Linked DNA regions of Homo sapiens. The protein of the gene in region 7 purifies or fractionates together with the protein of the main gene of each other region. This does not show direct contact. Each region holds a gene or a part of one and is shown on either strand. Other genes may lie near its edges.

Region 1 (3,500 bases), on a different chromosome or scaffold from region 7:
AAAATAAACTTCCCAGCTATGGAGAGGAGGCTGTTTTTGTTTGGAAGAGGCACTCCTGGGCCTTTTGTTAAGACGGGTGTCAGCTCGGAACCAGCAGCCCTGCAGAAGTGCCCAGGATTTTCTTTGTTTAAAAGCAAGTCTTCAGGGTCTGCTGAGGGTGTACGGGTGGTGGGTCTGGGTGGTTCCTTTTGCCGTGGTCCCGGGAGTGGCTGGGCGGGCCACGGTCAGGTGGAGGCCGGGCTGTCCATGGTAGACAGCAGGTGAACGACCTGCGCCCGCTCAGCTGGGCTGATGTGCTGGCTCAGGTATATCACACAGTCCACGGCCACCTCGGGGTTTTCTTCAACCAGGCTGTGGGGGAGGTGAGAGGAGGGCTGGGATCACTCCAGCCACTTTTTCAGTGGCCCCAAGGGTGGCAGAGTCCTTGTGTGGGGCCACACCCCAGAACCCAGAGCTCCCGAGTCCCTGCTGTGGTCCCCATGGGGGTGATGGTCCTGTGCAGCAGGAGGGGCTGTGACCTGAAGTTCAGAATGCCTTGAGGCACCACCGTCCCTACTGGTCACTGCTTTGTGACATGACCTGAGACAAGACACTGCCTTGAGTCTCAGCTTCATCCCCAAAATGGGGTCCCCTGTGCTCGACTCCCTCCTTCACGGGGTGACCCCATGGCAATTGGGGGAGGGGACCCTCTGGAAAGGTCAACACTGGCGTGGAAGACAGCAGCCTGAAGGCTAGCGGTTCCAAATGTGGGTTCTGTGACCAACCCTGCTCCAGCTGTGACTTTGGACAAGTCCATATTCCAGCAAGGTTCATGAGTTGGAAGCATCTCACACGGCCTTCAGAGTACCTCTAGGCTCTCTGTCCCACCCCAGCCACTGTGCTGGGAGACCCGACATTAGGGAGTGTGGTCTCTTTGCTGGGGAGCGGGGAGGGGGCGGGGACAACCCCAGACTGCACAGGGTGGCGGGTTCAAGTGGCTGCATAGGAGTCGGGTAGCTAGGGGTCAATCCAGGCTCGGGTCCTTGCCAGGAGGCTGGGAAGCAGGTGCGGTGGCCACTCACCCTCGGATGGTCTTGAGGACAGAGTCGTGCTTCAGGTACGTGATGTTCTCACGGATGGTGGAGCGCGGGCCATCCCCTGCCTGCCAGTGCTGTTCCAGCCACTGCACAACCACCTGGTTGTTGTCCCACAAGTAGGCCTGGGGAGGGGGCAGAGGATGCCTCAGAGAGGGACCCAGCTGTGGGCCAGCTGTCTCAGCCCCCAGCACCCCCTGTGCTCACCGGCCTCGTTCTCACCCCAGGCCCACCTTGACAGCCCCCTCCGTCTCCACGAACCAGCGACGCAGCATGGACTGGATATGCACGTGACTCAGCTCCCCGCTGGCCTGCAGGATCTCCTGCTTGACCTGGTCCTCCAGGAGGAGGCGGCGCAGACGCCAATACAGGAAGGTGCGTGCGGTCTTCCACTCCAGGATGTCCTGTGGACGAGCCAGGCTTGAATCCCCGGAAAGGGAAGGAGGAGACGGGACACTGGCTCTGACCACACCCATGACAGTGGCTGCCCGGGGCTGGGCCCAGGCTCTGAGATCATTCCCAGATCATCCCAGGCAAGTAAGCTGAGGCTCAGGGAGGAGAAGGCACCTGCTCAGAGGCAGGACGTCACCAGGACTCCAGACTGGCCATAGTTGAAAAAATGTCCCCCATAAAAACCTGGCACCCACTTCTACCTCAACCGACACAAACACAGGCTCGTGTGAGGCATGAGTCAGCTGGGAGGGAGAACAATGCAGCAAGAGAACCAATGAGCACTGGACATGGGTAGGAGGTGACTGTGGGAGTCCTTGCAATGGTGAGGGGTGGGTGAATGCTGGACAGGAACAACGGTTTCTACCCCTGGTCCAGGTCCAAACTGACCGAGCCATCAGACTAGTGGTCCCTGAACTTTGCTGCTTATTAGAATCTCTTGGGGATCTTTAAAAAATACGACCGCCTGGCTTCCATCCAGGTGTTTGGATTTCACTGGTCTGCAGTGCCACCTGGGGATCGGGATTATTTTAAAGTTCCCAGGTGACTCCCACCTCCTGCAGCATTTGACCCATCCCAACCACCACCGCCCTCCCCGCCCCCGAGCCCAAATGTCCTCCATGTTTTGGAAAACAGGGTGGGCTCTTTGCACCCTACACGGCAGCTGTGGCTCTCACAGATATGACGCCCTTCTCCAGCATCCGGCCGGGTGTGTCATGGAAGTCGGCGAACTGCACCGCCACCTGGTGGTAGATGGGGAGCAGCAGGTCCTCGCGAGCCTTTAGCCGGCCCTCCAGGTCCTTTCGGTCCTTGTCGGAGAGATCAGGTTCCCCTGCAGGTGAGCAGAAAGGCCAGTCAAGCCATGGAAGCTGGTCATATGTGATGGGGTGGAGATTTTTTTTTTTTTTTGAAGAAGGCACAAATCAGGATTTGCAGGACAGGCCTTGCCTTGTGAGAGGTCTGAGCTTTAACTCTGATATTACCCCTGCTGCTACACAGGCTGCCCTCAGCCCCCTAGGTCCCCCAGAGTCCACTGGCCTGGCCCCCACCCCAGGCCCATCTTGATGGCCCCCTTTGTCTCAGATCAAATAGCTAGTACAGTCTCAGAAATGCACTCACAATTGCAAGACAGCATTCAACATGCAACTCTACATTTTCCCCTTCCATCAGACCCATCGTGCTTGTAGGATACTATATCAATGATTTTTAGTACACATTGTAAAATATGATAAGGGAATATTATAAGCAACTCTATGCCAAATTGACAACTTAAGATGAAATAGACAAATTCCTTGAAACACACAAACCACCAAAGCTCACCTAGGAGGAAACAGATAACACAAATAGTCCTATATATAACAAAGAAGTTGAATTTATAGGTAAAAACCTCTATCAAAAACATAAAGAAATAATGCCAATTCTGCAAAAACTCAGAAAATAGGAGCGAACACTTCAACTCATTCTATGAGATCAGCATTACCCTGATACCAGCCAAAGAAATTACACGCACACACTGTAAAAAATCTTGTGAATAGCACAGTTATAAAGACACTGACACTTAAAATGGATATTTAAATATCATCTTGTGGCCAGACTTAGTGGCTCACGCCTGTAATCCCAGCACTTTGGGAGGCTGACGCAGGCAAATCACTTGAGGCCAGGAGTTCAAGACCAGCCTGGCCAACATGGTGAAACCCTGTCTCTACTAAAAACACAAAAATTAGCCAGGTGTGGTGGCACACACCTGTAATTCCTGCTACTTGAGAGGCTGAGGCATGAGAATCGCTTGAACCTGGGAGGCAGAGGTTGCAGTGAGCTGAGATTGCGCCACTGCACCCCAGCCTGGGCAACAGAGCAAGACTCTGTCTCAAAAATAAACAAATAAATAAATAAAGATAATTACATCTAAAGATGACAAGTAAAACAAAGCTGTCATTCAAACAAAATTAGTAAAATATCTTATCTCTGATTGGGAAT
Region 2 (4,149 bases), on a different chromosome or scaffold from region 7:
GCTACTTGGGAGGCTAAGGCAGGAGAATTGCTTGAGCCAGGAGGGTGGAGGCTGCAGTGAGGCCAAGATCATGCCATTGCACTCCAGCCTGGGTGACAGAGCAAGACTCCATCTCAGGAAAAAAAAAAAAAAAAAATATATATATATATATATATATATATACACACATATATATTAAGTTAAAACCCTACTGAAATGAAACCAATAAAATAAAATTCAATTTAATTAAAAAATAGTTCCTGAAATATTAATTTTCAAACAATTCTATTTTAGCTTTGACTCTGAACAAAATATAAACCTCAATTTCAAAATATCACAAAGATTGGCTGGGGGCAGTGGCTCACGCCTGTAATTCCAGCACTTTGGGAAGACGAGGCAGGTGGATCACCAGAGGCCAGGAGTTCCAGAGCAGCCTGGCCAACATAGGGAAACCCAGTCTCTACTAAAATAATACAACAAAAATTAGCCGGGTCTAGTAACCCCAGCTACTCAAGAGGCTGAGGCATTAGAATCGCTGGAATCTGGGAGGTGGAGGTTGCAGTGAGCGGAGATCATGCCACAGCACTCCAACCTGGGCAACAGACTGAGACTCTGTCTCAAAAAAATAAAAATAAGGCCAGGTGCCGTGGCTCACACCTGTAATCTCAGCACTTTGGGAGGCCAAGGTGGGCAGATCACTTGAGGTCAAGGAGTTTGGGACCAGCCTGGGCAACACAGTGAAACCTCCTCTCTACTAAAAATACATAAATTAGCTGGGCATGGTGGCACATACTTGTAATGCCAGCTACACCAGAGGCTGAGGCAGGGGAATCGCTTGAATTCGGGAGGTGGAGGTTGCAGTGACCTGAGATTGTGCTACTGCACTCCAGCCTGGAAGACAGAGTGAGGCTCCGTCTCAAAAAAAAAAAGAAAAAGAAGAAAATTTAAATTAAAAATTTAAAAAATCACAAAGACTACAAATACTCAGGTTTAAGCAAATTCCCACCTTTCTTGAATTAACAGTAATTCATATTTGCTTTGTCATAAATGTAGATATTTACCTGCCCCAATGGAATGAAATCCTAAAAGCCTAGTGTTCCCAAATGATGAAGAGAAAGAAACATGCATATTTTAATTTAGAATTTTGATTCAGAATTAATTTTAACCTAGCTGGAGTATACATAATCATTTATGTATTTATTTACTTATTTAAGAGACTGGGTTTCATTGTGTTATCCAGGCTGGAATGCAGTGGCACAACCTTGGCTCACTGCAACTTGTACTTCCTGAGCTCAAGCGATCCTCCCACCTCAGCCTCCAGAGTAGCTGAGACTGCAAGTGCACTCTACCACACCCAGCTAATTTTTGCGGAGACGAACGAGTCTCGCTATGTTTCCCACACTGGTCTCTAACTCCTTGGCTCACTACAGCCTCAAGCCCCTGGGCTCAAGCAATCTGCCTCCCAAAGTGCTGAGATTACAGGAGTGAGCCACCGCACCCGGCCTAGTGGATAGTGTATACTAAGCAACATGTACCCTGCTTTTGCCTAAAACATACTGAAAACATGGCATTGAACACAATCACAAAGTTGGGAGCTGAGAAAAATCATATACTGTAAAATAAATCTGAGATATTAATCTCAAGAAGCTCCTGAAAATGTCTCAAGAACTCCTATGCTGCACTCTCCCTAATAATTTAGACTTTCTACAGATATTTTCTGATCATCTACAGTGTGTCAGGCACCATGCCAGGTACCAAGATGCCATGGTGAGGTATACACAAAACCGGCTCCTGCTTGCAGGAAGCCTACTCTCTAAAACAGTGCTTGCCAAGCTCGCCTGATCACAACTTCGGAGCTTGTTTAAGTTCAAAATCGGCTTCCCTGCTGTGGTGAGCCACAGTCCGTGGCATTTTGATCAGGTGCTCCCAATGATTCCTACGCTCTAACGGGTTTGGGAGGCAAGGGTGGGGGTAAGCTCGAGAGCCCAGAGACATCCCGTCCAGCGGGAGCCCCACCTCTAAAGTCCATGTCGCTCAGCATCCTTCCCCCTGACTAGTGGCCCAAACACAGCACGAAGCTGAGGTGGGTGGAACGCTTTTCAAAACAACGCTCTTTGATGAGCCACCGACAGACTTGCTCGCCTCCGGGGACGAAGAGCTCACTCCTCACAAACCCCACCCCGGAAAGGTAGCACCTGAGCATCCCGGGCTGCGCCGACACCTGTCTCACCGCGGGTGCCGCTTACCGCTCCGGTGGACTCCAGTCCCCAGATTCCGCCCCACGGGGGCTGGGGGAAAAGGGGAGGCGCTGGGCGCATTAGGCGCTGACTGTATACCGACACCCCCCACCCCGGTGTGCGCAGGCCAACACCCATACACACCCTCACACACCCACACACATCCACACACACTCTCGCGGAAACTGAGCCAGGCAGGCGGCGGACCAGGTCCCGCCGCCTCACGGCTCGCGGCTGGGATCGAACCCGGACTGCGAGACGCCTTCCGCCTCGCAGGCGCTCCTCTGCCGCTGAGGCCCGGCCCGGCTCCCACCGCCGGAGTTTCACAAAGAAAGTCTCCCGGCCCGAGCCCCTCACGCACTCACCGGCGCCGACGCCGGCGGCGACTCTGGCTCCCGCCGCCTTCGGCTCCTTGCGGGGGTCGGCCCTTGGGTCGGCTCGGGCGCCGGCGGCGGCGACTGCTCCATCCCCACGGGGCCCGGGCCGCGTCCGCCTCGAGCTAACGGTCCCGCCAGCTAGGCGCGCGCGCCGGTTCCGCGCGCCATGTTCCCGCCGTGCTGCGCGCCGCCGCGGCGCCCCTCACTGCCCCCAAACCGCGCGCGCGCCCCCGCGGGCCCACACATGCACCGCGCACGCGCGCGTTCGCCGCGCCCCCTCCCCGCGCGCCCCGCCTCGCGCCCTCTGGAGCTGGCCGCTGTTCCCAGTGTCTCGCCCACCCCCGCCGGGCCCGTCGGACTCGGCGGGTGAGCGCGCGGTTCCCGGCTCCGCACCGCCGCCTGCCTCTCTGCAGACCACCCCGGACCCGACCCCTCGGCCATTTCCCCACACTGCCGCTTTCGCTTCCCCCACGACGCGGGGCCTGGGACGACGGTCTGGGCCAAGAGGAACTTCCCCGCAAGAAGTGTCGAGTTAAGGACGCTACTAAGGGGGCGGGATCGCCATCGTGGAGGTGTGCAAGCACGTGCCTGCGTCCCGGAGACAGCCAGACTCAACGGAGAAGCTGAGTTCAAGTCCCACATCTCCACTAACCCTTGCGTGTTAGGGTCAGGGCTTCGGGACTTGTTTCTCCTAAATCTTTTTTTTTTTTCTTTTTTGAGACGGAGTCTTGGTCTGTCACGCAGGCTGGAGTGCTGTGGCGCGATCTCAGCTCACTGCGAGCTCCGCCTCCCGGGTTCATGCCATTCTCCTGCCTCAGCCTCCCCAGTAGCTGGGACTACAGGCGCCGGCCACCACGCCCGGCTAATTTTTGTATTTTTAGTAGAGATGGGGTTTCACCATGTTAGCCAGGATGGTCTTTATCTCCTGACCTCGTGATCCTCCCGCCTCGGCCTCCCAAAGTGCTGAGATTACAGGTGTGAGCCACCGCGCACGGCCTGTTTCTCCTAAATATAAGGACTCAATATAATAATAAGAGAAAGCCTCAGCACCGCGCCTAGCACTTAGTAGGTAGTGATCAAGAGAGAAGACCTCTTAAGTGGTTTTAATGGTTAAGGACCACAGGTTCTCAAGAAAGGGAAATCTCAATTCAAGTCCCGCCTCCATCTCTTGAAAACTGAGAAACCTTGAACAAGTCACTCAGAGGAGCCAAAGATCCTTGATTTCTACATGTGCAAAAGGGGAGTGTGGCAGTAGCACTGCACAGGGTTGACTGAGCTTTCAGGGAGATGATGACTGTACGATCATGCCTCTCTTAATCACGGGATGGTTCTGAGAAATGCCTCCTTAGGTGATTGCGTCATTGTGCAAACAGCAAAGTGCATTTACACAAACCTTGTATAGCCTTGTATAGCCTACTACACACCTAGGCTGTATGGCGTAGCCTATTGCTCCTAGGCTACACACCTCTACAGCCTGATACTTTACTGAATATACTATAGGCAATTATAACACAATGTAAGTACTTGTGTACCTGAACATAGAGAAGGTACAGTAA
Region 3 (3,500 bases), on a different chromosome or scaffold from region 7:
AAAAACTCCAAGTTGTATTACTAAAAATATGTTTTAAGTTCTATAAAATGGGTATAAATATGATGTACACATCAATTATACAGAAAACCCTAGTTTACCACTATGAAGTACATATACAGGAAAAAAGCACTTTGCTACACTCAGAGAGTGTGCACTTAACAAATCGTTCTTATTGACAAATATGAAGAAGGATAGTATTCTGTAAAAACTGAAAAATACCTAAATACAAAAAAAAATTCTCATAATTCCACCATGCCAGATAAACAACTATTATTATTTTGTTTTTCTTTTGCAGTGGAGTCTCACTCTGTCACCCAGGCTGGAGAGCGATGGCATGATCTCGGCTCACTGCAACCTCTGCTTCCCAGGTTCAAGCGATTCTCCTGCCTCAGCCTCCCAAGTAGTTGGGATTACAAGCACCCACCACCATGCCCTGCTAATTTTTGTACTTTTAGTAGAGACGGGGTTTCGCCATGTTGGTCACGCTGGTTTCAAACTCTGGACCTCAGGTGATCCGCCCACCTTGGCCTCCCAAAGTGCTGGGATTACAGGCATGAGCCACCACACCCAGCCCCAGATAACCAATTATAAATCACTTGTTTATATTTGATATATTTCCCTCCAATCCTTTTTCTAATCAGTGCATATTTTTATATGACTGTAATTATACCAAATACACAATTTCTTTAAAAACATTTTGTAAAGTAAAACCTGACCCAGATCTCCTCCCTTCATCTTCTCCTGCCTCACTGAATTTCAGGAATAAATGGGGCTGTTGAGAGGTCTACTTCCTTCTTTGTAGGCATGCTATCAATATTCTTCACACTTCATTAAAAAGCCATAAAAACAATTACAACATCATTAGCACAGCCTTTTTAAAAGAAGCTTACTAAGGCTCACATAATGACTAAGTCAAACATAGGACAGTACTCTGCTGTTAGCTTCTGATCCCTGAACACTGGTAAAACCAATGAATGGGGACAACAGGCAATCAGAAATGAGGTATGAATATGAAATATAGTATACAGGAATGAAAAATTAAGCAGTGCGTGGGATCACCTGCACTGGGCTCTTTAGGGGTTTCCAAAATATAATGAATGCACTACTCTGCTGCTAGAAAAGAAGAGTACTTGCAGGGTAACATACTTACCGCCCTTAATGGACCAAAGTAAGCATTAAGGGTATCTTTATTAATAAATTTTATGTTTTAAAAGTAGTTTTAGGCTCACAGCAAAATTGAGAGGAATACAGAGATTTCCCATGTCCCCTCTGGCCCCCTATACGTGAACCTTCCGCCCATTATCAACATCCTTCACCAGAGTGGCACATTTGTTACAACTGATGGACCTACATTGACACCTTATTATCATCACCCAAAGTCCATCGTTTACACTAGGGTTCCCTCTTGGTGTTGCAGATCTATGGGTTCCCACAAATGTATAACACTTATACATTTGTGTATAACAAATACACACAAAAAATTTGTGTTAAACAAATTTGTGTGTAACACAAATGTATTCACCCTTACAGTATCATAATGAATAGTTTCACTGCCCTAACAATCCTCTGTGCTCTGCCTATTCATCCCTCTCTTCAACATCTGGTAACCTCTGACGTTTCACTGCCTCCATAGTTTTGCCTCCTCCAGATATCAAATTGTCGGAATCACACAGTATGTAGTCTTTTCAGACTATCCTCTTTCACTTAGTAACATACATTTAGGTTTCCTCCATGTCTTTTCATGGCTTGATAGCTCACTTCTTTTTAGTGCTGAATAATACCTATTGTCTGAATATATCTCACTTTACTTATTCATTCACCTACTAAAGGACATCTTGGTTGCTTCCAAGATTTGGTAATTATGAATAATGCTGCTACATGTGCAATTGTGTGGACACAGGGTTTCAACTCCTTTGGTAAATACCAAGGAGCATGATTGCTGGATTGTATGTTAACAGTGTGTTCAGTTTTGTAAGAAAACACCCAGCTGTTCCAAAGTGGCTGTACCATTTTGCATTCCTACCAACAATGAGAGTTCCTGTTGCTCCACATCCTTGCCAGCATTTGATATCATCAGTGTTCTGAAATTTTGGCCATTCTAATAGGTGCATAGTGGCATCTCATTGAGAAGATGCAATATTAAAACAAAAGCAGATGCATGTATCTTAACATGTATACCTCTTCCTATTAATGTAGTATAATATTATATGTAATGGAAATGACATGAGAATGGATAGCTGAATATCTGTTTATTTTATAAGAAACATACCTGTTGATGGAAACTATGATTCCATTACAAACAGGGCTACTTCATAAGAGTCTTCAAAATATAACAAGATTATCCCATCCACCATCATTTTTTCTTCTGTTATATTCAATATTATCAAACTTAAATATGATAATACAAAAATCCTTCTATGTGCTGGGTAGAGGGTTTACAAAAAGCAATGAAATGGAAGTGCAGGAGAAAAATTTAAAGCTATACTAGCTTTAGAGAGCAACAATCCTAAAATAATGAATTAAAATAAAAAATTTCTTTAAATTACAACATACCATTGCTCTAGGATTTAATTTCCATTTTTCTCACCTTCAAAATAGCTTCAAAGAGAAAAACAGTCATACCTCCTGCAGTGTCCCATCTCCTCCTGCAACAATGATCACATCCGTGTTTTCCATCAGTTCCAGGAGTTTCTTGGCTTGTCCCTCATAATCTGTCTGAAATACCAAGGAAGCCTTTGGTGAGTTTATCAACCTAGAGCCACAAGGTTAAAGGTTTAAAAATGTGGGATATCTTCTTTAAAGTTTTACATTGACTGTCTTCGTAAATTTTACATAACTGATAGACATGAAAAAAATAGCTATCAAAGCAATTATGTATAGTCGTTACAGTTTTACACTTTTAGAGCCAGAGGGACCTCAGAAACCATCTAGTCAGCTCCATACTTTGAAAATAAAATTCAAACCCAATAATTTGTCTCTTACACAGCTAGCTAGTCAAGGGCATCATTTCCAGTCAAGTGCAGATTCTATTACATCCTTTATAGGAAGTCAAGTGTACATGCAAATAGGAAGAAGCAGATGTAATGACAAGAGCACAGATGTCAGAGCCCAAGAGACCTGGATTAAATCTCAACTCTGCTACTTTTTAGCTGAGTGACCTTAAATTCTATGGATCTTAATTTCCTCATCACTGAAATTATGTGTGTTGAGGGAGGGAATAATGATAACTTCTCAGTAAACCAGTTGTAAAGCAGTATGTAAAGCAACTGGTAAGGTAACTGTTCATAACTGGTATTGCACTAAATAAAAGGAGGTTATTATTGTTTTGTTATGACCATACATAAAGAAATACAGGTAGGATTCAAAGTAGTCACAAAACAATGCCTAAGACTTACCATTTTTATTGATACCATTTGATTTCAGATACATACATAGACTTCAATGAACCATTTAAGCCACCAATAATATGTATACTTCTAAAACCAAACACTAAATTTCAA
Region 4 (3,500 bases), on a different chromosome or scaffold from region 7:
CCCAGCTACCCGGGAGGCTGAGGCATGAGAATCACTTGAACCCAGGAGGTGGAGGTTGCAGTGAGCCGAGATTGTGCCACTGTACTCCAGCCTGGGCAACAGAGCAAGACTGTCTCAAAAAAATAAATAAATAAATAATTTTTTTTTAAAAGTGTTGTAGTAGTGAAAAGGAGAGATCGGGGTGGAGACTTGGCAGCATGAGGCAAAAACACGGCAGCAGGGAGGAGGGTCACGGCAGACTGGAGGGAGCCCAGAGAGGACCCCATGGAAAGAGTGGCAGACCCTTCAGGGAGGCCAGGGACACCTCTCCCTGGAGCCTGTGCAGTTTCTGTTGAGTTCTAGGGCCTAAGAAATTAATCAAGAAGAGACAGGAGGCCTCAGAGGATGCCCAGACCTGGGTGGTCCAAGCTGTGGCCTGTACCCATTCCTGGGTTGTACCATCAATTTAGTGGGCCATGAGCAGCATTAGAAAGATGTATATATTTTCCTATATGTGTCCTGGGTCACAAGATGAAATGTATTTCTTACGGTATTCTGTCCAGAAAAGTCTGAAATCTACCAACTTTAGTCCAGTATCCTCTTCATACCTCTGAGAATGAGAAGCCCAGAGAGGCAGGGTGAGTTGCCCTCCAGGCCAGCACTTTTCCTGGGGCCCCTTGGCTTGGCTGGAGGCTCCTTTGCAGGCTGCTCCCAGCCCCAAGGTCAAGGATTACTGGCAGCCTCGGGGTCCCTGGGATTACATGGGAGCTGTGCACCCCTAAGGGGAGGGCAGCAGGTACTGCCAGGACTGGCCCCGATGCTCACCTGGGGACATGGCCTTCATGTCTCGGGGGAACTTGCGGCACACGTTGTTGTAGTTGGTGCAGATGTGGTGGAGACACCAGTCGGCCAGCTGGTACGCACAGTGGAACTGGGGACAGAAGGGAAGAACGTCTGTACTGAAATCCCCAGGGGAGAGGGTCTGCATAGACACCTCCAGCTGCCTTCAGAGCTGAAGCTCTGGTGCAGGGCACGCAGAGGCCCTGCAGTTCTAGAGAGCCTGCGCCAGAGGCAAGGCCACACAAAACTGAGGATGATGATGCTGCCTCAGGCTCCTTGGCACCACCGCCAGCACCACCATCATCTCACCTCTGTTCTGCCCACTCCTGGCATCCTCGCTGCAGACACCAGAGCCCTATGTAGTGGCTTCATACTGCATCTGCCCTCCTCAGATCTCAACCTACCTGACTTCTCTCTCCTCCACATCTGGGATCAAGGCAGCCTGCACGGAGGCACTGACAATGAGCTAAGGGAGCTGCCTTCCCAGGGGTGTCTGCAAGCCCTGCCTGAGCCGTGCTTCCACTCCACACACTAATCTTTGGTGGCTGAATTTCTGGCACTGTGAAGGCCACTGTGGGAGATTTGGCTTGTTTGTTTGGGATTAAGGGAGTAGGCGGTTAATTTCAGATGGAAAGTCCTCAGTGCCCCTTAAATGACCTCAGGCAGGCAGCAACCATGTGTAAGCCTGAGCCTGGGGTTCCCTCCCCAGCCCTACTGCTGCCTAAAGCCTCATCCCTTCCCCACTTGGTCAGCTCCCCTCCGGGTACACCAGGGAGTTCCCCAGCTGCTTCCTGGCATGGAGGAGGAGATGGGCTACGCGCAGTCAAAGAGCCCAGTCCGATGACAGGTTCTCCCGCATAGACCATCTTCCACCCCTTCCCATTCGCAGCCAATGGGCAGGCAGAGTGTAGAACTGAGACTGTTGTAGATTCCCTCCCCTGCCATGATACCTGAGCCAGTTCCAGGAACACAAGGACGTCCCCATCGATGTCCACCATCATCTGGGTCGCTTCCATCAGCCCGGTCACTGTGTACTGCTCTGTAACACACACGGCCACCAATCAGCTGAAGAAGCACATGACCTGTGCTCACCCTGCCCCACCACATCCCCCAGCTCACTTCAGGGTGAGGAAAACCAGGGCCCGGGCAGGTCCGGACAGGCCAGGAAAGGCCCCAGGCTATGACGTCTGCTGCCACCAGGGGGACCCCAGGGATGACAGCAAGAGCTCAACGGGGTAGGGTAGGAAGAGAAGGAGGACATTGGAATTACCTAAGAGGATTTTTCAAACTACGTATGTCCCGTGACATAATCTGATACAGGTAGGGTCAAAGTTCCCAACAGAACCAGCCTCTGATACAAAAGGGAGAGTGTGTGAAACCTCATGTCTGCTGATCACAGAAAAAGGCTGAGAACTGTGAGTTAGAACTAGGAGTTAAGTCTAGTTGTTTGTTTTAATTTAAATTTTGTAAAAAATTGTGTACTAACCTTGTATTTTAAGTTAAAACACTTATATTGAAGAAGTAAACACCCTTGGTTCTGAATTTTAATTAGAAGTATCAGTATAAACTCATGAGGTATCTTATCTTTAAAAAGATCAATATATTTCCCAGCTCTGCCCCCAGAAAAGACCTAGAAACAACAGTCATCCCAGTACAATGAGCATTCCTAGTGCACACAAATACCAGTTCCACTTCCAACACAAGAAACTAGGACTTCCTGGAGAAATGGCTGATTCCAGGTCTGGGGCACAGAACCTTCAAGAGGAACCTAGAACATCTCATCATTCCAGATAGAGAGGAAGCTCGTAAGACTCTGGAGTCAAGCCAAAGAGTGCAGGATTTGAGCTTCAGCAAGGATAACTGCAATTAACTGAAACCAATCAAGAATGTTCAAATCTAAGGGGCCATAATAATACTTCAAAAACAAACAACTGGCCGGGCACGGTGGCTCACGCCTATACTCCCAGCACTTTGGGAGGCCAAGGCGGGTGGATCACTTGAGGCCAGGAGTTCAAGACCAGCCTGGCCAACATGGTGAAACCCTGTCTCTACTAAAAATACAAAAATTAGCCGGGTGTGTTGGTACGTGCCTGTAATCCCAGCTACTCGGGCGACTGAGGCATGAGAATCTCCTGAACCTGGGAGGTGAAAGTTTCAGTGAGCCGAGATCACATCACTATACTCCAGCCCAGGTGACAGTAAGACTCCATCTCCAAAAATAAAAAATAAAAGTAAAAAATAATGCAAAAAACCATGCTGTAGTGTTTAATGACACACACTTGGATGATAAAACTATAAAGGAAAGTAAGGCAGTATGCCCATAAAAAGTGCCATAAAAAAAGGAATACTAGGCAAAGGGCTTCCTCTTAGGGAGGAGAGAGGGGTCTGTGAGAGAGGAGGGAGAGGTGGAGGACTTCTGGTGGCCAGCAAGGTTCTAGTTCCTGACATAGGTCATGAGTAGAAAGGCATTTTCTTTATAATAATTCATTAAACTAGGCCAGGCTTGGTGGCCCACGCCTGTAATCACAGCACTTTGGGAAGCCGAGATGGGAGGATCACTTGAGGCTGGAGTTTAAGACCAGTCCAGGCAACACAGTGAGACCTCATCTCTGCAAAAAATTTAAAAATTAGGCCGGGTGTGGTGGCTCACGCCTGTAATCCCAGCACTTTGGGAGGCCAAG
Region 5 (2,474 bases), on a different chromosome or scaffold from region 7:
CCCAAAACGCTGGGATTACAGGTGTGAGCCACCGCGCCCGGCCAAATGCAATGAATCTTAACTCTAACAGGGAAGTAAGCTGGAAGCCGATGTATACCCTAGTGAAACAAAGTTACATTTCTCATTTCTTCAAGCTGTTAACCCTTTTCCTGTTTAGAAAAAAAGTGCAGCTCGCTGCCAGCGCTCATTTAATTTTACATAAACACGCTTTTTGAGGCTGAAGAAAATCTGACGATTTTCAATATGAAAATAAAATATAAAAACTATTCTTGGCGTTATTTCTAAAGAGAACTAATATTAGAATCATCTGAATCACCAGAATCATCTACTTCAGAAAAATCAGATTCATCAAATGAATCTTCAGCCAACATGAGAACGATGTAACGTCATGTGTAGAAATGCTACGTTTTCTATGATTTGGCATTTTCAATGAAAATACAGAGCAAAATTCCCAAGAGGCAAGGCCAGAGGGCACGATAGTTCACAGAAGTACTTTAAAAGGTGTAGTGTAGTAGGTGTAATGCGGAGCCGGGCGCAGTGGCTCACGCCTGTAATCCCAGCACTTTGGGAGGCTGAGGCGGGCAGATCACCCAAGGCAAGGAGTTCGAGACCAGCCTGGCTAACATGGTGAAACCCTGTTTCCACTACAAATACAAAAGAATTAGCCGGACATGGTGGCGTGCCCTTGTAATCCCAGTTACTTAGGACGCTGAGGCAGGAGAATCACTTGAACCCGGGAGGCAGAGGTTGCAGTGAGTCAAGATCGCATCATGGCACTCCAGTTTGGGCAATAAGAGCGAAACTTGGTCTCAAAAGAAAAAAAAAGGTGTAGTGTGGACAATCTAGTTACAGCAACTGAGGTACAGTGAAGAAGGGAACCACATAATCTAAGCCTATCTTGTGCCAGTGTCCAGTGATGGGGCTAAGTGCCCATCCCTGGAAACTGCTCAAGCTAAGTGTCCTAAGATCGCACTTCTGCACAGCCGTGTGAGTCCTTCCCGTCGGACCCTGGGCTGCCTCTCACTTACCTTCTAATGATGCAGCCCCCTCTCCACATCAGGGCGATGCCACCATAATTGAGAGTCCAGCCAAACTCGGTGGCTGCCTGCCTTAGCAGCATAAAGCCTTGAGCGTAAGAGATGATCTTGGAAGCGTAGAGTGCCTAAAGAGTGACACAGAGACCTACTAGGATTGCCATTAGGAGAGTGACCGCCTTATGTCTACCAGTCTTATTCTCATCAGCAGTGGAGATCCCAGAAGGGCCAATATTCTAGGAAAACATTGTAAGTCAAGATCCAAGTCAAGGCTGAACTTCATTCCACCTGCCATCCTGTGGCCTCGAGTGTTCTCCCACCACAACCCCCACCCCCACTGCCTTCCGCAGGACCAACAAAGACCACTGCCAGGGACTGTGTCCCACCTTCCGAATGTCCTCCAGGAATGATTTCTTATCACCATCAAACTGGAACTTCTGGGGACCCTTCAGCTTTTTGCTAGCTTGAATTCTCTCATCCTTCAGAGATGATAAGCACCGAGCAAAGACAGCTTCTCCTACATGGGGAGATCGGGAAGAGGAAACAGATTACTGTCAGGCCTCTGAGCCCAAGCTAAACTATCATATCCCCTGTGACCTGCATGTATACATCCAGATGGCCTGAAGCAAGTGAAGAATCACAAAAGAAGTGAAAATGGCTGGTTCCTGCCTTTACTGATGACATTCCACCATTGTGATTTGTTCCTGCCCCACCTTAACTGAGCGATTAACCTTGTGACATTCCTTCTCCTGGCTCAGAACCTCCCCAACTGAGCACCTTGTGACCCCTCGGCCCTGCCCGTAAGAGAAAAACCCCCTTTGACTGTAATTTTCCACTACCTGCCCAAATCCTATAAAATGGCCCCACCCCTATCTCCCTTCGCTGACTCTTCGGACTCAACCTGCCTGCACCCAGGTGATTAAAAAGCTTTATTGCTCACACAAAGCCTGTTTGGTGGTCTTTTCACACGGATGCGCATGAAAATTACCAAAGTTCGCACAGCAACCAGAAGAAAGGTGGAGCAGGAAAGTCTGTTTATACAAAGAGCTGAAAGTTTCAACCTTAGGCCACAAAAGTTGACATGGATCGGAAGGAACTTTTATAAGAAGCTCTAAACAGTTAATTTGATAACTAAAACTCTTAAGACAATCTTCCAATACAAACATGAGTATTCAATCACAAAGATTAACATGAAATTCAAAAGGGAGTTTTGAGGGAAAATGAAGAGATAGAAACCACTGTTATGGCTGGGCAAGGTGGCTAACACCTGTAATCCCAGCACTTTGGCAGGCTGAGGTGGGAGGATCACTTGAGCCCAGGAGTTCAAGGCTACAGTGAGCCATGATCACACCACTGCTCTCCAGCCTGGGCAACACAGTGAGACCCTGTCTCTAAAACCAGTAAAATAAAATAAAAACCACTGTTATGTAGAATACTCAG
Region 6 (3,500 bases), on a different chromosome or scaffold from region 7:
AATCTCGAACTCCTGGATTCAAACAATCCTCTTGTCCCAGCCTCCTGGGTAACTGGTACCACAGGCAATCACCACCACACCCAGCTAATTTTTAAATATTTTCAGAGGAGTCTCACTGTGTTTTCCAGGCTGGTCTCAAACTCCTGGCCTCAAGTGATCCTCCCGCCTCAGCCTCCCAAAGTGCTAGGATTATAGGTGTGCACCAACGTGCCCAGCTGGGGGCTACTATTTAGCCCCTTGCAGGTTCCCTCACACCCTCCCCTTGCAGGTTCCCTCACACCCTCCCTCCCTCCCCACAGGTCTTCCTGCAGTCATCACCACCTGCCTGGCCCTGGGTACCCGTCGGATGGCAAAGAAGAATGCCATTGTAAGAAGCTTGCCCTCCGTAGAGACCCTGGGCTGCACCTCTGTCATCTGTTCCGACAAGACAGGCACCCTCACCACCAACCAGATGTCTGTCTGCAAGGTCAGGAGCAGTGTGGGCAGCGCGCTCAGTCAGAAGGCTGCCTGTGGGGGTTAAATGGGCCCTCCAAAGATAGAGGTCTCCCTTCATCACTGCTGGCTTCTCATCTGGGCCTGCAAAATGCTCAAAGGGCAGTAGAACGCCATCCTGTCTGCCATGAACGGGATCAGAGAGGACCCTTGTGCCCCAGCCAGACAGCTCACTCTGACCACCATCCACGCACCAGGCACTGCCACACATCGTCTCTCATCCCTCACAATAGCCCATTCAGAGGATGGTCTCATTATCTTCATTTTTTTAATTAAAAAAAATTATTATTATTTTGAGACAGAGTCTCACTCTGTCGCCCAGGCTGGAGTGCAGTGGTGTGATCTTGGCTCACTGCAACCTCTGCCTCCCGGGTTCAAGCGATTCATCTGCCTCAGCCTCCCTAGTAGCTGGGACTACAGGTGCCTGCCACCACGCCTGGCTAATTTTTTTGCATTTGTAATAGAGACAGGGTTCGCCATGTTGGCCAGGCTGGTCTTGAACTCCTGGCCTCAAGTGATGTGCCCCTGTTCGCTTCCCAAAGTGCTGGGATGATAGGTGTGAGCCACGGCACCCAGCCTAACTTCCTTTTTTAGAGGAGGAAAAAGCCTCTGAGAGATTAAATGACTTCCCCCAAGATGCACAGTTAATAAATAACAGAGTTGAGCTTCAAACCCGAGTCTGTGTGGCCCCAGAGCTTCTGCCTGTGAAGTAGATGGCTCTCCAGAATGGTCACTCATGACAGGGCCCGGCCAGACTGCCAACACTGACCGTGAACAGCATTTCCTAAAGCAGGGCTCTTAATCTTTTCTGTGCCTCACACCCCTTTGCAGTTGAGCTCTTGTCAGGATAATATTTCAAATGTATATTAATAAAATAAAACAGGCCAGGTGCAATGGCTAACGCCTGTAATCCCAACACTTTGGGAGGCCAAGATAGGCAGATCACGAGGTCAGGAGTTCGAGATGAGCCTGGCCAACATGGTGAAACCCCATCTCTACTAAAAATACAAAAATTAGCCGGGCATGGTGGTGCGTGCCAGTAATCCCAGCTACTGGGGAGGCTGAGGCAGGAAAATTGCTTCAACCCGGGAGGCAGAGGTTGCAGTGAGCCGAGATCGCGCCACTGCACTCCAGTGTGGGCGACGGAGTAAGACTGTCTTAAATAATAAAATGAAATGAAATGAAATAAAATAAAATAAGCCAGGGGTGGTGGCTCACGTCTGTAATCTCTTCAGGAGGCCAAGGTGGAAGGATCACTTGAGCCCAGGAATTCGAGACCAGCCTAAGCAACATAGTGAGAGTCCGTCTCTACCAAAAAAAAAAAAAAAAAAAAAAAATTAGCCTGATGTGGTGGTGCACACTTGTAGTCCCAGCTACTCAGGTGGCTGAGGCAGGAGAATCACTTGAACCCAGAGATTGCTTGAGCCAGGAAGTCAAAGCTACAGTGAGCTGTGATCACACCACTGCACTCCAGCCTGCATGACAGAGCGAGACCCTGTCTCACGCACAAAAAAATAAAATAAAATAGGGCTAGGTACGGTGGCTCACGCCTGTAATCCTAGCACTTTGGGAGGCTGAGGCGGAAGGATCACTTGAGCCCAGGAGTTTTAGACTAGCCTGGGCAACACAGTGAGACCCCACCTTTTAAAAGATAAAATAGAAAGTAAAAAATAAATAAACAAAACAGGATTCTGGGTTTTTTTGTTTGTTTTTTTTTGTTTTTTGAGATGGAGTCTCACTCTGTTACCCAGGCTGGAGTGCAGTGGCCCAGTCTCGGCTCACTACAACCTTCACCTCCCAGGTTCAAGTGATTCTCCTTCCTCAGCCTCCTGAGTAGCTGGGACTACAGGCACGCACCATCACACCCAGCTAATTTTTGTATTTTTAGTACAGATGGGGTTTCGCCATGTTGACCAGGCTGGTCTCTTAACTCCTGACCTCAAGTGATCTGCCCACCTCGGCCTCCCAAAGTACTGGGATTACAGGAGTGAGCCACTGCGCCCGGCCAGGATTCTGTTTTAAAAATACATAGGAAGCTGGGCACGGTGGCTCATGCCTGTAATCTCAGCACTTTGGGAGACCGAGGTGGGTGGATCACCTGAGGTCAGGATTTCGAGAATAGCTTGTCCAACATGGAGAAACCCCGTCTCTACTAAAAATACAAAAATTAGTTGGGCGTGTTGGCAGATGCCTGTAGTCCTAGCTACTAAGGAGGCTGAGGCAGGAGAATCACTTGAACCCAGGAGGTGGAGGTTGCAGTGAGCTGAGATTGCGCCATTGCACCCCAGCCTAGGCGACAAAAGCAAAACTCCATCTCGAAAAAAAATATAAAAGACCTGACGCAGTGGCTCACGACTGTAATCCCAGCACTTTGGGAGGCCGAGGTGAGCAGATCACCTGAGGTCAGGAGTTCGAGACCAGCCTGACCAACATGGAGAAACCCTGTCTCTACTAAAATACAAAATTAGCTGGGCGTGGTGGCACATGCCTGTAGTCCCAGCTACTTGGGAGGCTGAGGCAGGAGAATTGCTTGAACCTGGAAGGCAGAGGCGGTGAGCTGAGATCGTGCCATTGCACTCCAGCCTGGGCGACAGAGCGAGACTCCGTCTCAAAAAAAAAAAAAAAAAAGTAGCCAGATGCGGTGGCTCACACCTGTAATCCTAGCACTTTGGGAGGCCAAGGCGGACGGATTACCTGAGGTCAGCTTGGCCAACATGGTGAAAACCAGTCTCTACTAAAAATACAAAAAATTAGCCAGGCGTTGTGGTGGGCACCTGTAATCCCAGCTACTTGGGAGGCTGAGGCAGGAGAATCGCTTGAACCCAGGAGGCGGAGGTTGCGGTGAGATTGCACCACTGCACTCCAGCCTGGGCGACAGAGTGAGACTTTGTCTCAAAAAATAATAATAATAAAATAAAACAAAAATAAAAAAGTAAAAAAAAAATACATAGGAAAGATACATAGGGTTACAGAGGAAACCAATGATTGTGAAATACAGTTCTATCAAA
Region 7 (3,500 bases):
CAGCACCTTGCTCTTGGGCTTCTCAGCTTCCAGAACTGTGAGAAATAAATTTCTGTTGTTTATAAGCCACCAGTCCATAGTATTTTGTTATCCAGTCCAGAAAGACTAAGTAAGCCAGTTACTGAGGGGAGGAGCTGGAATTTGAACGGAAGTGTATCCGACCCCAAAGCTGGTTCTCTCAACTCTGCTGCTTAGAGGCTGCTGGTGCCATGGAATGTTTGAACGGGCAGTGGGGAGAGACCAACTCAGACCTTAATATAAGGCATTTGTGTTTTAAAAAAATCACTGCCCAGGCAGGCTGTCACGTGAGACACAAGAGGGCTGGGGTGCGGGTAGGAGGACCGTCCCTTCCTATTTCTGTGTAACACGCGAGGACCCCCACATGGCACTGGGTGTGAGGGGCAGAGGGGCCCTCAGGTTCCCCCACTCTGTCACTGAGTTCCCTGCTAGGAATCAGGTGCTAGGCTTTCCTGGCCACAAGCCAGCACCCTGCCTGAAGTTCCTGCATCCCACATCTGCCCTTCACAGACCCAGATGGCCCAGTCGCCTCAGGCCCTCAAGCAGGACCTGCCGGGGAGGTGGGGGCACGTGTGCTGGATGCTTGGCAGGAGGAGCCCTGTGGAGCTGGGGCTCCTAGAGGGGTCGCTGCCCACTCACCCTGGAGCCCGAAGCCTGGGAGAGAGGCACTCTTGGGAGAAAATCCCTTCCTCCCCCTCTCCTCCAGGCTGTCCAGCACCTGCTTCTTCCTGCTCCTCACCCTGATGGGACCACCCATCTCTCTCTGCTGATGGGACCAAGAGGGAGGTGCAAACCTCTGAACCTCCGAGCATCTGGAAGTGTGAGCCGAGGGAGCTGACACTGCCAGGCCCTTGGGGTCCCCAGGCAGGAGGGAAGTTGACGGAGTCTAGCTGCAGAGCCATGGAGTCCTGCGGACGGGAGCCCTCTTGCCTCGCAAGACTTACAGCATGTCTCTGGCCTCAGTTTCCTGATGCATGTAATGGAAAGAGTACCTCCCGCCCTGGGGAAGGTGGTGGAATAATGAAGTCTAGAGCATTGGGGTACAGGGCTATGGAGGAGCAGCACCCCCAAACGGGGTGAAAGGTTCTTAACCCTCAGCCCTCACAGCTGCAGAAGGGACCAAGGAGAAAGCTCCCCTCCCCGACCCTGGGCATGCACACTGGAGCTTGGTTTGATGTGCCATGGAGTAGAATCCCAGGATTCGTCCAGAAAACAAGGCTACCACTTGCTACTAAATCAACCCAACAGGTCTGTTCACCCCGGGTTCCGGAAAGAGAGCCCAGCGCCAGGGGGTAGCACTGTCTAGGGCCTGGTTAGGTGTTTTGGAAAAGTCCATGGGTCCCCGCCCGGCTGCTGTACAGATGTGCCCTGCTGATACCCTGGGCCTCAGCAGAACCTCGAGCCTCTCTCTCTCTGCCTGCCTTTCCCTCAGGTTCTGCATCTGTACTAGGCTTCCTGTGCCAACGAGAATATATAAAACCATCCTCCCCAAACACAAGCTGACACTGGGGGCTAAACCTGCCTGACAGTCCCAAGGAGCCTGGTGACCTGGGAGGAGCTCCTCAGATGCAGGGACCATTGCAGGCTGCGGCGCCCGTCCCAGGTGCATCCTGGGCTACCCTGGGAAGGGCTGGGGAACAGCAAGAGCCAGATCTGTGGTAAGGACACTCATTTTAGAGACGTGATGGATTCATTTAATATCTTTTCGCTACAATTGCTTTGCAGTGCCTGCTCTTAATGGCCTCCAAAGTTCCATCCAAATATCTTTTGCTGGCAGTTTAGCTCTCTGGCTGGCATTTTTGCTGGCAGAACTAACAGCTGGATGCCTCCTTGAATGGGAAACTTTCATTGTCTTGTCTTCTCTCTTCTGAGTTTCCAGTGACTGCCCCAGGTCTGAGGCTGGAGCAGGGCTCTGACTGTGACACCCCTGCGTGGAGCCCAGTGGCTGACTTTCAGGAAGGACAGGTGAGTGTGGGGGAGTGGAGGCCTGTGCCTGACTAGGTGAGGGCCCAGGCCCAAGCTCCAAGGAAGAAAAGGGGATGTGAGGAAGCAGGGTATTTGTTGCCTGAGGCCCACCTCCAACACTTTGGGCAGAACACCTTAGCTCCAGATGCACAAAACTCACAGGCTCTGGGCTGTGCAGCCCCCTGGGAACACTAACTAGCTGGCCTCAGAGTCTGTGGACCTCTGCATGTGCCCTGGGTCAGAAGGCATGACCTGTCTAACTGCCACATGGCGTGTCTGTGCCATGCTGCCATCCTTCTCAGGGTCCTCTCTTCCCTAGCATTCTGGCACACACCGGACAGAACCCCTTGACTGCTGCAGGGGTGGTTGGCCTGCTGGGACATGTATTTGAACGCTGACATAGCAGGGTTCTGGTAACACCACTGCCACACCCTCGTCAGTGGCTGGTACAACAGCCTCTGCTAGGATGATGGACCTCATCATCCATGAGGCAGCCCCTCCTCCTGTCCTGACCACCCTCTCCTCGACAGGAGCCCTGAATGCCTGCTCACTGGCGGCCTTGCATTCTTCCCCCGGGGCTGGCTCCATCCCTCCCCAGGAGCTGAGACCTCTACTTCTCCCCACCTTTCTGGATCCCAGACACATCATCAGCAAGATCCACTCTAGTGGAATAGAAAAAGTCTTCTTGTCTAGCTTGGGCCTGGTGACCGGTGGCAAGTGACAGGCCTCCTGCTTCTGGGAACTGACCTCTGATGGTGGCTATTGGACATGTAAATGTCTGCCTGGGGTCAAAAGTCTACACTAATGAGAAGATCACCTGAAGAACAGGGCCTCCCAGGTGCCTCCCCTACCCTTTGCCCCAGAATCTCCGTTTCATCTCTGGCACTCATCATGACTCCCTTCTTTGGCCTAAGACATGAAGTTACCTGGGACAAAAAGAACTTCAATCAATCAATTTATAAATTAGTTAGATCTCTTCAACAGAGAGTGGCCTGGTCCCCAAGAGTGGCCTGGGTGCTGTGTGCAAAGTTTATCCTCGGGAAGCACTTGACTGACAAGCGTGGGCTGGGCTGTGGTTTCAGGTCTAGCAGAATGCAGGGGGATGGCAGGAGGCACCCAAATAGCACAATAGGAGCAAAGCGGGGACCTGCCCAGCCTCCCAATGTGTCAGGCCAGGCCGCCTCTCCCAAGCCATCAAGTTACCCAGTGGCTGCTGCCTGCTCCTGCATGGGCCCCTTGGTAGCACGGGGGTGGGGGTTCAGCCTGGGTAGCAAGAGTGCTGGGCAGGCAGCTGGGGATCCCTGGGCTGGAAACTGACTCTGCCATTAGTTAGCTGTGTGGCCTCAGGACCCACTTTCCTTCTCTGGACCTCTGTTTCCCGCTCTAAAATTATGGGGGCTGGACGAAACATCCTCCGGGGACTCCCTTTGGCTTGAATGTGCTACAGCAATCTGAGATGGCCAGCTCTTTCCTGGGGCAGCCTTTTCCTCCTCAGAGCTCCTCTTTGCTGATCTGAG

The links.
Region 1: the proteins of PAK6 (region 7) and ACACB purify together in Homo sapiens (affinity purification with mass spectrometry, with the first as the bait; one large-scale study listed by BioGRID). This does not show direct contact.
Region 2: the proteins of PAK6 (region 7) and TTC28 purify together in Homo sapiens (affinity purification with mass spectrometry, with the first as the bait; one large-scale study listed by BioGRID). This does not show direct contact.
Region 3: the proteins of PAK6 (region 7) and AGK purify together in Homo sapiens (affinity purification with mass spectrometry, with the first as the bait; one large-scale study listed by BioGRID). This does not show direct contact.
Region 4: the proteins of PAK6 (region 7) and RHOBTB2 purify together in Homo sapiens (affinity purification with mass spectrometry, with the first as the bait; one large-scale study listed by BioGRID). This does not show direct contact.
Region 5: the proteins of PAK6 (region 7) and PGD purify together in Homo sapiens (affinity purification with mass spectrometry, with the first as the bait; one large-scale study listed by BioGRID). This does not show direct contact.
Region 6: the proteins of PAK6 (region 7) and ATP2A1 purify together in Homo sapiens (affinity purification with mass spectrometry, with the first as the bait; one large-scale study listed by BioGRID). This does not show direct contact.

Annotation. Positions count from the first base shown.
Region 1 is NC_000012.12:109,263,087-109,266,586, reverse strand, and holds part of ACACB (acetyl-CoA carboxylase 2), read right to left. Parts: intron 2,356-3,500; coding exon 2,201-2,355; intron 1,478-2,200; coding exon 1,307-1,477; intron 1,199-1,306; coding exon 1,062-1,198; intron 352-1,061; coding exon 225-351; 3' UTR 1-224. UniProt on the Homo sapiens protein: Mitochondrial enzyme that catalyzes the carboxylation of acetyl-CoA to malonyl-CoA and plays a central role in fatty acid metabolism.
Region 2 is NC_000022.11:28,677,041-28,681,189, forward strand, and holds the start of TTC28 (tetratricopeptide repeat protein 28), read right to left. Parts: upstream 2,801-4,149; 5' UTR 2,684-2,800; coding exon 2,582-2,683; intron 1-2,581. UniProt on the Homo sapiens protein: During mitosis, may be involved in the condensation of spindle midzone microtubules, leading to the formation of midbody.
Region 3 is NC_000007.14:141,610,410-141,613,909, reverse strand, and holds part of AGK (acylglycerol kinase, mitochondrial isoform 1 precursor), read right to left. Parts: intron 2,716-3,500; coding exon 2,623-2,715; intron 1-2,622. UniProt on the Homo sapiens protein: Lipid kinase that can phosphorylate both monoacylglycerol and diacylglycerol to form lysophosphatidic acid (LPA) and phosphatidic acid (PA), respectively. Does not phosphorylate sphingosine. Phosphorylates ceramide.
Region 4 is NC_000008.11:23,013,048-23,016,547, reverse strand, and holds part of RHOBTB2 (rho-related BTB domain-containing protein 2), read right to left. Parts: intron 1,859-3,500; coding exon 1,770-1,858; intron 911-1,769; coding exon 805-910; intron 1-804. UniProt on the Homo sapiens protein: Regulator of cell proliferation and apoptosis. It likely functions as a substrate-adapter that recruits key substrates, e.g. MSI2, to CUL3-based ubiquitin ligase complexes for degradation. Required for MSI2 ubiquitination and degradation.
Region 5 is NC_000001.11:10,416,064-10,418,537, reverse strand, and holds part of PGD (6-phosphogluconate dehydrogenase, decarboxylating), read right to left. Parts: intron 1,552-2,474; coding exon 1,421-1,551; intron 1,163-1,420; coding exon 1,029-1,162; intron 1-1,028. UniProt on the Homo sapiens protein: Catalyzes the oxidative decarboxylation of 6-phosphogluconate to ribulose 5-phosphate and CO(2), with concomitant reduction of NADP to NADPH.
Region 6 is NC_000016.10:28,888,488-28,891,987, forward strand, and holds part of ATP2A1 (sarcoplasmic/endoplasmic reticulum calcium ATPase 1), read left to right. Parts: intron 1-299; coding exon 300-466; intron 467-3,500. UniProt on the Homo sapiens protein: Key regulator of striated muscle performance by acting as the major Ca(2+) ATPase responsible for the reuptake of cytosolic Ca(2+) into the sarcoplasmic reticulum.
Region 7 is NC_000015.10:40,245,563-40,249,062, reverse strand, and holds part of PAK6 (serine/threonine-protein kinase PAK 6), read right to left. Parts: intron 1-3,500. UniProt on the Homo sapiens protein: Serine/threonine protein kinase that plays a role in the regulation of gene transcription. The kinase activity is induced by various effectors including AR or MAP2K6/MAPKK6.